Regions from separate parts of the Homo sapiens genome. Here region 2 is linked to region 1. Evidence: fine-mapped expression QTL. A gene starts in region 1. The other region holds a variant in brackets. All regions are shown on one strand. Distances are from middle to middle. Region 1 holds the start of YAF2 (YY1 associated factor 2). Region 2 overlaps YAF2 (YY1 associated factor 2).

Region 1 (5,385 bases):
ACTGGCTGTGGAGTAGGACACCAGCTTCCCCCCTTCCTTGCTGTCCCTGCAAATAAACATATAGGCTCTTCTAGTTTCAGTATTTTTCTAATGGCTACAAGAAAATAGAGAGGGAACAACAAAAAGCAATAATATATAGTACCAGAGATCAAGATTATAATTGTTTCCACTTTAATGTTCCTGCCTCCAAAAAACGAATTTTCTAAAAATTGCTTATTGAGCATTTTAAAAAGCACAAAGTACTAACACAGATACACAAATATACTCTAAACCAACTCCAACCTTACACAGCCAAGAAGATACTCTGCTTTTCAAAATACTTAAATCACAAATCACGGGTCCAAAAATAGTAACCACAATCATTTTAGCAAATACTTTTTTTCTTTTTGGAATGTTCTGTTGTAATCCCTTAAATTTAGCATACGTTTGAAAGTTTGCTTTTTGAATATGAAAAATGTACGAAATATTTTATCAATTGTGGGAATATACAAAAAGCATATGATGATTTACAAAAAACAAGCATGTCAAAACCAGCGAGCTTCACTGAGAAATTTTTCAGATAAGTTACTGTCAACCATTCCTGTCTCTAAATTTTAAACTTAATAAAATTCTGTAAAGTGTTTTTTAAAAAATCAAGATCTCATTTTTTAGAAATCTAACGTCTACTGAATATTTGTATATGTCAATATTACATGTGCCTTCTTTTTTAAAGCAACAGTAAGATTAGTATGCTTATTGTTATAGTTTAGTTTCTAATGGACTTTGTAATATCAAAATACATATCTTCTCTAAATATTAAGTAATAAATCACAGGATTATATTTAATTCAAAGGGTACCTTCGTATAAGAATCAAGGAGCTCGATAACTAAGTGCTGACAGATTAAGAATGCCACTGACTGAATTTCCTGGATGATTTTCTTTATTCACTTAATTCAAAGTCATTTTTTAAAAGACAGAGTTATTATACTGCAAGCTTACAATAAATAAAGTCTGAAAATAGGCAGAGATCTTTTCATCTCATTTGTCTAAGAGACTGCCATTTAATCAAACTAAAGATATAAAGGTACTTTCAGTAAAAATCTGTTCCTGTGACTGGGCTCATCTCCAACTACTTATTTATAAAATATTAGAGTACTGGAATAAAAACACTAAATAAAACCTTGATCTGACCCTTCCAGAAGTACATGTAGAAAAATAAGTTTTAATATATTGTGTATTCTGCAATCAGATACTTTTCTTTCTTTAGGAACGAAATTAAATTACATCCTTTGCTCCTAAAGAGATTTTATGGGTTTTCCTTGATCCCCACACACTAACACAACAATGCAGCCAACATTTTTATACCCAGAATGGGGAGAGGGGCATTACACCCAGCGATACGAATTAAATCGCAGTAGCTAATGCCTCCCTTAAATAATTTATTCTCTCTTGGCAGCAAAAAACGTTACAGCCTCTTCAATTACCCCTCACCGCAAACCATCGCCTGGGTTGCGATCAATGTGACCCAGTTCCTATCGCCACAGCCACCTCCGTCTGCCTCCTCCCGCCGGGTCCGCCAGTGTCATGGGAGGGGGCGGCAGCCGCAAGGGCGTCCTCTGGTCGCCACCCCGCCGGCCGGCGGCGCGAGGGGCAGGCCCGGGACTCACCGGGTGGAGGTGCCCTTCCGCACATCGCACATCATGCACTTGAAGGCCTCGGCGCTGTTCCGGAAGGTGCAGACGCTACAGTCCCAGTAACCCTCATCCGAGGACGGCTTCGGCTGCCGCTTCGGCCTGCAGGACACAACCCGGACACGACGCGGCGCGGGGTCACCAGCAGGCCGCGCCCGGTGCCCGGGCCCCGCGGCCGCCCCCGCCCCGCCCCCCGCCCCAATTCTGCGACCCCCGCCCCGCGGGCCCTCGGCGCGCCGCGCTCCGGCTGAGGGGGAAGGGAGTCAGGAAGAGGCAGGGCGCGAGCGCGGCCGCAGTCGCCGCCGCCACAGCCGCTCTGACACCCGGGCGGCCGCTCCGGTCGCCGCCGCCATCGCGGCTCCATTGTGGGGCGGCCGGCGCCGGCCCCCTCAAGCGGCAGCACTCGCACACCAGCGGCGCTGCCCCCGTGCTCGCCCCGGTGCCCGGGCGGCTAGCGAGGCGGCCACCCGAAGCCCTGCACGAGGGCCCTGCCGCCCGCACAGTCCGGGCCCCGGGGCCCGGGCGCTGTTACCTGGTGGGGCTCTTCTTGTCTCCCATGGCTTGGCTATCACCGCACGCCGAGAGTCGCCGCCGCGACCGCTCTGTTTGTCAATAAGGAGGATAATAAGCCGGGCGGAAGCGGGCGGGGGAGGAGGGAGGGAGGGGGCGGGGAAGGCCGCACCGCCGCGCTCGGGAGCCGCCGCCGGATCCCACGCAGCCTCCAGCTGTCGGGGAAACTCCTGCCTGGGCGCACGTGACCCTCGCCGGCCAACCAGCAGCCGCGCCGGAGACTTCAAACGCGGCCAGCGCGGCCCAGCACCCGCGGCGAGTTAGCCGGCGGGCGGTGCGGGGGTGGCCGCGGTGGCCGCGGCTGCCTCGGGCGCCGGCGCCGCCTCTCCGCGCTGTTCCCCCGTTGCCCCCTTGGTACCCCCGGCTGCCGGGGACTGCCTCGCGCTCCAGAGCCCCTCTGAGGAGGAAAACGTCTGTCCCACCGACTGGCAGGGGATGCTCCGTCATCCCGTGCGAAGCCTGGTCCAAGGTAGGGCCGGCCGGCGTTCGGAGGCCTGTCCAGGTCTGGACAGAAGTGCCAGCCCGGGATCTCCAGGTAGAACGACTTTCCTGGCCTCCGCTGTCCTTAGCTACCCAGCCCCCGCCTGCAGTATACCGGGGGGAAGGCGGGAACCAACACGCAGCGCCATTGCTACATGCCTTAAAGCACTGTCTGGTTTATGCACACAGATGCTCTAACAAGTAGGGATTGTCAACCCTAACTTAGAGGAATTGAAATCAAGACTCAAGAGAGATTAGGTGACTTCCTCTAGGCTATATAATTAGAAAATGACAAAGCCAAGAGTCTAACTCTGTTTTAATTCCAAACGCGCCCTTTTGGCCTCTCAGGCCTCTGCAGTAGCTGCTTTTGAAAGAAACCCCTATATACTCATAAGTCCTTTTTAAATATAAGGAGTTTGCATGTCCCCTCAACGCTGTCTGCTAACAAAAGAACACCTTCCCAGGTCTCTACGTCAACATACTAAAGGTCCTCATACTCCAGACTCCAGCAACAGCCATCTAACTGGTCTCCGAAGCTCCACTTCTACCTCCCCAATGTATTCAGTAATCCACAACCAGATTAATAATAAAATGCTGTTAATACTATGCCACCACTCTGATAAAGAACCACTAACGACTTGCCCACACTCCTTAGCCTGGCATTCAAAGGCTTCACACATTTTCCCTACCTCTGCCTCCCTCTCCCATAAGGAAAGCTGCCTCCTGACAAAGAGTGCAGATGAAATTCATTCCCTTACCAGAACCCTTCCTTCATGCACATGGGTTACTTCTGCATAAAGTATATCCCTCTTTAACTGTGCTGTTTCTGTCCATCTTTCTAGGTTTACATCAAGTCCGAATTCATGTAAAATAATTTTATAGCTAAACTACATAGGAAATAATACAGTCAGAAGCCCAGGATTCTCAGCCTGCTTCTCCTGTTTCTTAGCTGATAGACCTTGGAAGTATTGCTTAATTTCTGTAATTCTCAACGTTTTCATATTCTGAATTGCATCTATATGAGATTGTTGTGCGATTAATAATAACATTTTTTGGCCGGTTGCGGTCGCTCACGCATGTAATCCCAGCACTTTGGGAGGCCGAGGCGGGCGGATCACCTGAGGTCAGGAGTTCACAAGACCAGCCTGGCCAACGTGGCGAAACCCCATCTCTATTAAAAAATACAAAAATTAGCCAGCTGTGGTGGCGGGCGCCTGTAATCTCAGCTACTCGGGAGGCTGAGGTAGGAGAATCGCTGGAATCCGAGAGTGAGAGGTTGCTGTGAGCCGAGATCGTGCCACTGCACTCGAGCTTGGGCGACAGAGCGAGACTCCGCCTCTAAGTAAATAAATAAATAACATTTTTTTGAGCACTATGTGCCAGGCACTTTGTAAATCCCTGCGCATAGATGCATATTTTAAAGGACTCAAAGTACTATGCACATGGCCTCATCGACTGCAGATGCTCTTCGATTTAGAAAGGGGATACTTCCCGATAAATCCACCTTAAATAGAAAATATTGTAAATTGAAAATGCATTTGGTACACCGATAAATCCATCGTAAAGTAGAAAAATCGTAAGTCGAGCCATTGTAAATCCGTAGTCTAGCCCTTCTTTTTAAAGACAAGGCAATTAGGGCCCAGGTTAAATGGTTTTTCTTTGATGAGCAGGCCAGGGTTAGAGCTCAGGTATCCTATTGGTCTTTCACCGCATCTTCTTTCTGATTAACCAAATCACTCCATTTACATAGCAGTCTCTAAACTCGTTGTACCATCTGTACTTTTTGCAAATGTAGCTTCTCATGATTCAGACCCAAATTCGGAAACCAGGAACCATGAGGAGTATGATTGAGGCACGTATACAAGAGAACCAGATTTAAGGCCTAGTCTTTAACCTCTCAGTAATGCAGTGGGTAAACTCAGCTAAGTTTTTTTCATATGTAAAATAAAGGAGTTAAAACTATTATCACAACTAAGGTCCCTTGCAAGTCTAAGGCATTGTGATGTTTTTAAATGCCTCAACTGGATGGATCCTCAAATAGACTGACAAGAACTGCTCTACTTGCAAAAGTGATGGCAACAATGTATTTTTAAATAAAAAGGAAACTAAATCAAGCACTCTAAAAATCCCCCATGCTGCAAATCACCATTTCACTAGATTGTAACCTCCCTCACTAAAAAGTAAGCCGCACCTCTGAATCATGAACAAAAAGCACAATAACTTTTGTTGCCTTTATTGCTGCATCTCCAGCCCCTAGAACAGTGTGACACATAGTGGGCACTCAATAAATATTCTGAGAATAAATACATCCACTTATAGTCAGGTTAGCGCGCGCCTGTATTCCCAGCTACTTGGGAGGCTGAGGCAGGAAGATAACTTGGGCCCCGGAGTTCCAGACCAGCCTGAGCAACAAAGCCAAGACCCTGTTTCTAAACTAAATAATCAATACATTCACTTGTGTTACAATTGTTGAATGAGATTTTTTTCTTTCATATTGGGATTTACAAACTGTTAGGCATATTGCATGCAGTGGATGGTCAATAAATGCCAGAATTAACATTTATCCTTCAAAATGAACTTTACAACTCCACACATCCTTGTCGATGAACCAGGAACCTAGTTTTTGTGGAGCACAGAATCATATGCCCTTGCACTATACCAACT
Region 2 (5,385 bases), 30 kb before region 1:
GACCTCATGATCCACCCGCCTCGGCCTCCCAAAGTGCTGGGATTACAGACGTGAGCCACCGTGCCCGGTCATTGCTGATTATTTTCTAGTTCACCAAATTCTGTTTTCATTTTTATTATTTCCTCTTCTTCCTTTGGCTCTACTCTTTTTTTAGTTTTTTAAATTGAAGAGCTGGCTCATTTATTTTCAATCTTTCAATCTAATACATTCATTAAAGATTATAAATTTATCCCCAAGTACCATTTTTGTGCATCCCTCAAATTTTGATACAACACTTTTGTTGTGATTTAGTTCTAATTATTTTGTAATTTCCATTTTTTTAATTCTTGAAAATTCTTAATCATTTTTCCTTTAATATTGCTTCTCCACTCCTCTGTGTATGCTCTCTTCTAAAACTCCAATTAGACCTATATTGGAACTGCTCAATCTATCCTCTAAGTGTCATCTTTTCTTCCATATTTTTCACCTCTTCATTTTTCTGCATTTCTCTGTGCTTGTCCGGAGGAGTACTCATTTCTTTCTTCAAATCAGTAACTTCTCTCTTTAGCTGTGTCATATCTTCTATTTTACCCATTTATTGAGTTATTTTATTACAAGCTATATTTTTCAAGATTTTAATTGGTTATTTTACATAAATATTTATTGTTTCTGAAGTAACTGTTCTTGTTCAATTATAATGCAATATGCTCTTAGTTAAAAAAAAAAAAAAAAAAAAGTGACGTCTGGCTGGGCGCAGTGGCTCACGCCTGTAATCCCAGCACCTTGGGAGGCTGAGGCGGGCAGATCACCTGAGGTCAGGAGTTCGAGACCAGCTTGGCCAACATGGCAAAACCCCATTTCTACTAAAAATACAAAAATTAAGTGGACGCGGTGGTGCACACCTGTAGACCTAGCTACTCGTGAGGCTGAGGCTGGAGAATCGCTTGAACCCAGGGGGTGGAGGTTGAAGTGAGCCGAGATAGCGCCACTGCACTCCAGCCTGGGAGACAGAGTAAGACTCCATATTAAAAAAAAAAAAAAAGTAACTGAAATTTTAAGCTAAATCACCTTAGACAAACTGTTCTTTGAAAAGTTCTCCATTATAAATCACTTCTTTAATGACAAAAAAAAAATCACTTTTTAGGAATTCTCTTGGCTGCTATTCTGCCAAATGTTATCCCACTGTGCCTACCTGCTTCAAGGCATGAAAAGTTCTATTATTCCCATTTTAGAATTGGAGAAATTGAAGCACAATAAAGTTCTCTTTAAAACACTTTCTCCTCATCTTTTTTTAAAATTTCAAAGCCATAGAAAAGTTGAAAGTACAATGACCCATATACCTTCTACCCAGATTCAAAATTGTTAACATTTACAACGTTTGCTTTACCTTTTTTCTCTCTCTCTCCATATACTTGCACACACCACACCCAAATATCCACACACTTTTTTTTCTGAACCCACTCCTGAGCCCAACATGATACTTCACTTGGAATATTTCAATATATTTCTCCAAAGAATAAAAGCACTCTCAATATAACGACCATATCATTCACACCAAAGAAACTATGAGATTGAACAGAATCGTACAAAGACATGCAGCAGTAGATTCAAAACTAGTATTTAAGTCATCTGACTAAATGCTCTTTATCTTGGCTTGTCTAATGATTGGACAAACTGCTTTCTGATGATTATTTAGAAGAGACAATCTGTCAAAGAGCATTTCCTTCCTTCATTTCTGAAAAGAAAGCAATAATCTTCTAAGATATTCAAACTGCAAAAATCAAGGATACTGTATTTCCACTTTGTTTTCTAACACTAAATCTTTAAGTGAAGCTACTCTATACTCTCAAAACTATATACTCTTTTTATATGCCACAAGATAAATTATTAATAATATTATACTAAATAATTAGAATTTCACTATACCAGCTTTTAAAGGGAAAAATTGTTTTTAAGAAAAAAATATGGTACAAATAAGATTGATGAGCCAAATGAAACTGCTTTATACATTAAAAAACTGGTAAGTGTAGGCTGGGCACGGTGGCTCATGCCTGTAATCCCAGCACTTTGGGAGGCCGAGGCGGGCAGATCACAAGGTCAGGCGATCAAGACCATCCTGGCTAACACGGTGAAACCCC[G/A]TCTCTACTAAAAATACAAAAATTAGCCGGGCGTCGTGGCGGGCGCCTGTAGTCCCAGCTACTTGGGAGGCTGAGGCAGGAGAATGGCGTGAACCCAGGAGGCAGAGCTTGCAGTGAGCCGAGATCGTGCCACTGCACTCCAGCCTGGGCGACAGAGCGAGACTCTGTCTCAAAAAGACAAACAAAAAACTGGTAAGTTTATTCATAAATCTATATGAAAAGCTAATATTTCAGTGGGGATGATTTAATCTCAGTCACTGATGTTAGGAACTAGGTAATATAAACCATAAAATCCTATGCTTGCTCTCAAAGAACCTAAAAACCCAGTTTAAGAGTTGCATATTTTTATTACACAACATACCTGTGTAAAAAATAAAATAATAAATTTTTTAAAAAGAGCTGTATATTTTTAAAAAATAGCAATATGGCCAGGCGCCATGGCTCATGCCTGTAATCCTAACACTTTGGGAGGCCGAGGCGGGCAGATCACTTGAGGTCAGAAGTTCAAAACCTGGCTAACATGGTGAAATCCTGTCTCTACTAAATATACAAAAAAGCTAGCCAGGCCTGGTGGCAGATGCTTGTAATCCCAGCTACTTGGGAGGCTGAGGCAAGGGAATTGCTTGAACCTGGGAGGCGGAGGTTGCAGTGAACGGATATCATGCCACTGCACTCTAGCCTGGGCGATCGAGTGAGACTCTGTCTCACTTTATTTTAAAAAATAAAAATTAAATTAAATTAAATTAAAATTTAAAAATAGCAATACAACCTAAAGCTAATATTTAAGGGCTAAACTGTATCATTCAGCTAACTATAACCACAAAAATGGTTAAGATCAATCTATAGCCAAACACTAGCCAATAAGGGTATTAACTGGGTGCTGCTAAGGTACTGTATTAAATAAATTCCATGAATTAATAGTCTTACAGACATCCCACTTTTCTACTGAAGAACTGAAGATAACAAATATACTAGCATAAAAGGACTGATAAAAGGGGTAAGACTTGCCTCAACTCTAAAGTACAGAAATCAGAATGCAGAAAAGGCTATCTGAAGAAAGTGAGAAACCACAAACCAAGTGTAAATATAACTATGCAGGTAAGAACAAACAAAAGTTTCAAACTGAAGAAATTAAGGCTAGATAAACAGAATGGAATTGGATAGCAGGAGGCCTCAAGTATCCAGCAAACGGATGAAAGTTTTGTAAAACAGCTATAAGCAGGACACCACTACGAGCTCTTTATATTTAAAATGCCTTTTTAGAAATAGAACCTAGTAATAATACAAAATGAGTGGGAGAGAAATGAGAAGCAAGAAACTATATAGTAACATTTACAAATATCAATTCAATAAGTTATTTGGTACCTGAGGAAATCAGGCAGCTCAAACTGAACCAATTCTGTCACAATTCACATCAAGTATTTTCATTACAAACAAGGAAGCGGTAAATAGACTTGCAACATATCCTATATTATTTTTCAAATATACTTTCAATGAAGTTCAAGATACATTGAAAACTGTCATTAAGAAGTGCTAGGAAAAAAAAAAAAAAGTGCTAGTCAGGCCAGGAGCAGTGGCTCACACCTGTAATCCCAACACTTAGGGAGGCCAAGGTGGGCAGATCATTTGAGTTCATGAGTTCGAGATCAGCCTGGGCAACATGGCAAAACCCCATCTCTATAAAAAATAAAAAAATTAGTCAAGCATGGTGGTGTGCAACTGTAGTCCCAGCTACTCAGGAGGCTGAAGTGGGAGGATGGCTTGTGCCCAGGAGGCAGAAGTTGCAGTAGGCCAAGATCACACCACTGCACTCTAGCCTGGGCGATAGAGCCAGACTTTGTCTCAAAAAAAAAAAAAAAAAAAAAAAAAAGTGCTAGACAATTAATATAAAACTATCCTTGCTGGTCAGTACTACTGTGCCAAAAGAAATTCACCAAATATGACATCTGCATAAATTTTACAATATAAGTATTTACTTCAAAAAAGCAACATCATAAAGAAATGTACACAAGAATTCAACATTTGGCTTCCCTATATTGCTTTAGAACAACTAAACCATTTACCAAAGCCAGTAAATGCATAATTTTTTGTTTTTTGAGACAGAGTTTCGCTCTTGTTGCCCAGGTTGGAGTGCAATGGCACAATCTCAGCTCACCGCAACCTCTGCCTCCTGGGTTCAAGCGATTCTCCTGCCTCAGCCTCCCGAATAGCTGGGATTACAAGCATGCACCACCATGCCCGGCTAATTTTCTATTTTTCGTAGAGACAGGGTTTCTCCATGTTGGTCAGGCTGTTCTCGAACTCCCGACCTCAGGTGATCCACCCGCCTTGGCCTCCAAAAGTACTGGGATTACAAGTGTGAGTCAGCAAGCCCGGCCAACTAAATGTATAATTTTTTAGAAGCAGCTATTACGTAAATAAGATACTTTAAAATTAATGTCATACTTTTTACTCATACACCCATTAATAGCTCAGTATTTACTGTCCACACAATAATTTCCATAATCCATATCAAATGTACAAAAAGAAGCTATCCCAAGTAACTTCCTTTCTTTTCAATTAAACAAACTCCTTCTCAAGGGACAAAATTTGGGGGGAAAAAAAATCTCAGGTTTGTGAAAACTAGATTACTTACCAGTAACTTGAGTTATCCTATTGGGTCTTTTCCCTCACAGATCCACCTCTCTTGCCCTTCTGTTCAGCATGAGAATCTTCCTGATGGGCATCCACTGGAACTGAGGGGGCATGCAGTACAGACGTATATGTAAGAAAGTTTGGGGGAGGGGATTTGGGAGATGCTAGAGACATGCTTCAGTGCACTTGCTTACCTTCCTGAAATTGGAAATTTCAACGGTTCCTTGGTCCTCGAGGCACTCACAATAACTTCAAACAATGTGGATCTGTGGAGATTACCCAATAGGAGAACTCCAGTTACTGGTAAGTGATCCAGCTTTTTCTTCTCTATCAGAATAAGAAGATTATTTCATTTTATTTGAGATTATTATCACACGTAGAACTACAGAAGAAAGCATAAATTCACTAGATAACTATATATACACGTATCAAAGTAAATATGGAAACAATTTGCTAAATATAATGTCAGTGGAAACTTCTCACATTATCAGAAACATAAGGAAATCATTAGAATGGTTTCATTTTAAAAAGTCTACTATAATGGCTGCTATATTTTAATATACAAAAATATCAGCCACCAGGCTATTTCATTTTGCTGAAACAATATCATTATATTTTATATTAGTACAAGAAT

What was found. PIP is the estimated chance that this variant, and not a neighbour inherited with it, causes the effect. A credible set is the group of variants that fine-mapping cannot tell apart.
Region 2: its variant is the best candidate, but not a certain one, in a credible set for the expression of YAF2 in esophagus mucosa (GTEx, PIP 0.52).

Annotation. Positions count from the first base shown.
Region 1 is chr12:42,235,952-42,241,336 of GRCh38, forward strand. YAF2 (YY1 associated factor 2) reads right to left here and starts at 2,297. Exons shown (of 4, transcript NM_005748.6): 1 at 2,204-2,297; 2 at 1,648-1,773. The coding sequence starts at 2,229. LOC124902920 (a long non-coding RNA gene) reads left to right here and starts at 2,494. Exons shown (of 2, transcript XR_007063279.1): 1 at 2,494-2,776; 2 at 3,186-3,327. RefSeq lists silencers at 1,423-1,752, 1,873-1,942, 2,043-2,422, 2,473-2,712, 2,903-3,042 and an enhancer at 1,588-2,089.
Region 2 is chr12:42,205,603-42,210,987 of GRCh38, forward strand. All of the region lies in intron 2 of YAF2 (YY1 associated factor 2), which reads right to left. Among named protein-coding and RNA genes, the nearest start is that of YAF2, 30 kb to the right of the region's middle. The variant G/A (reference allele first, on the strand shown) is at 2,118.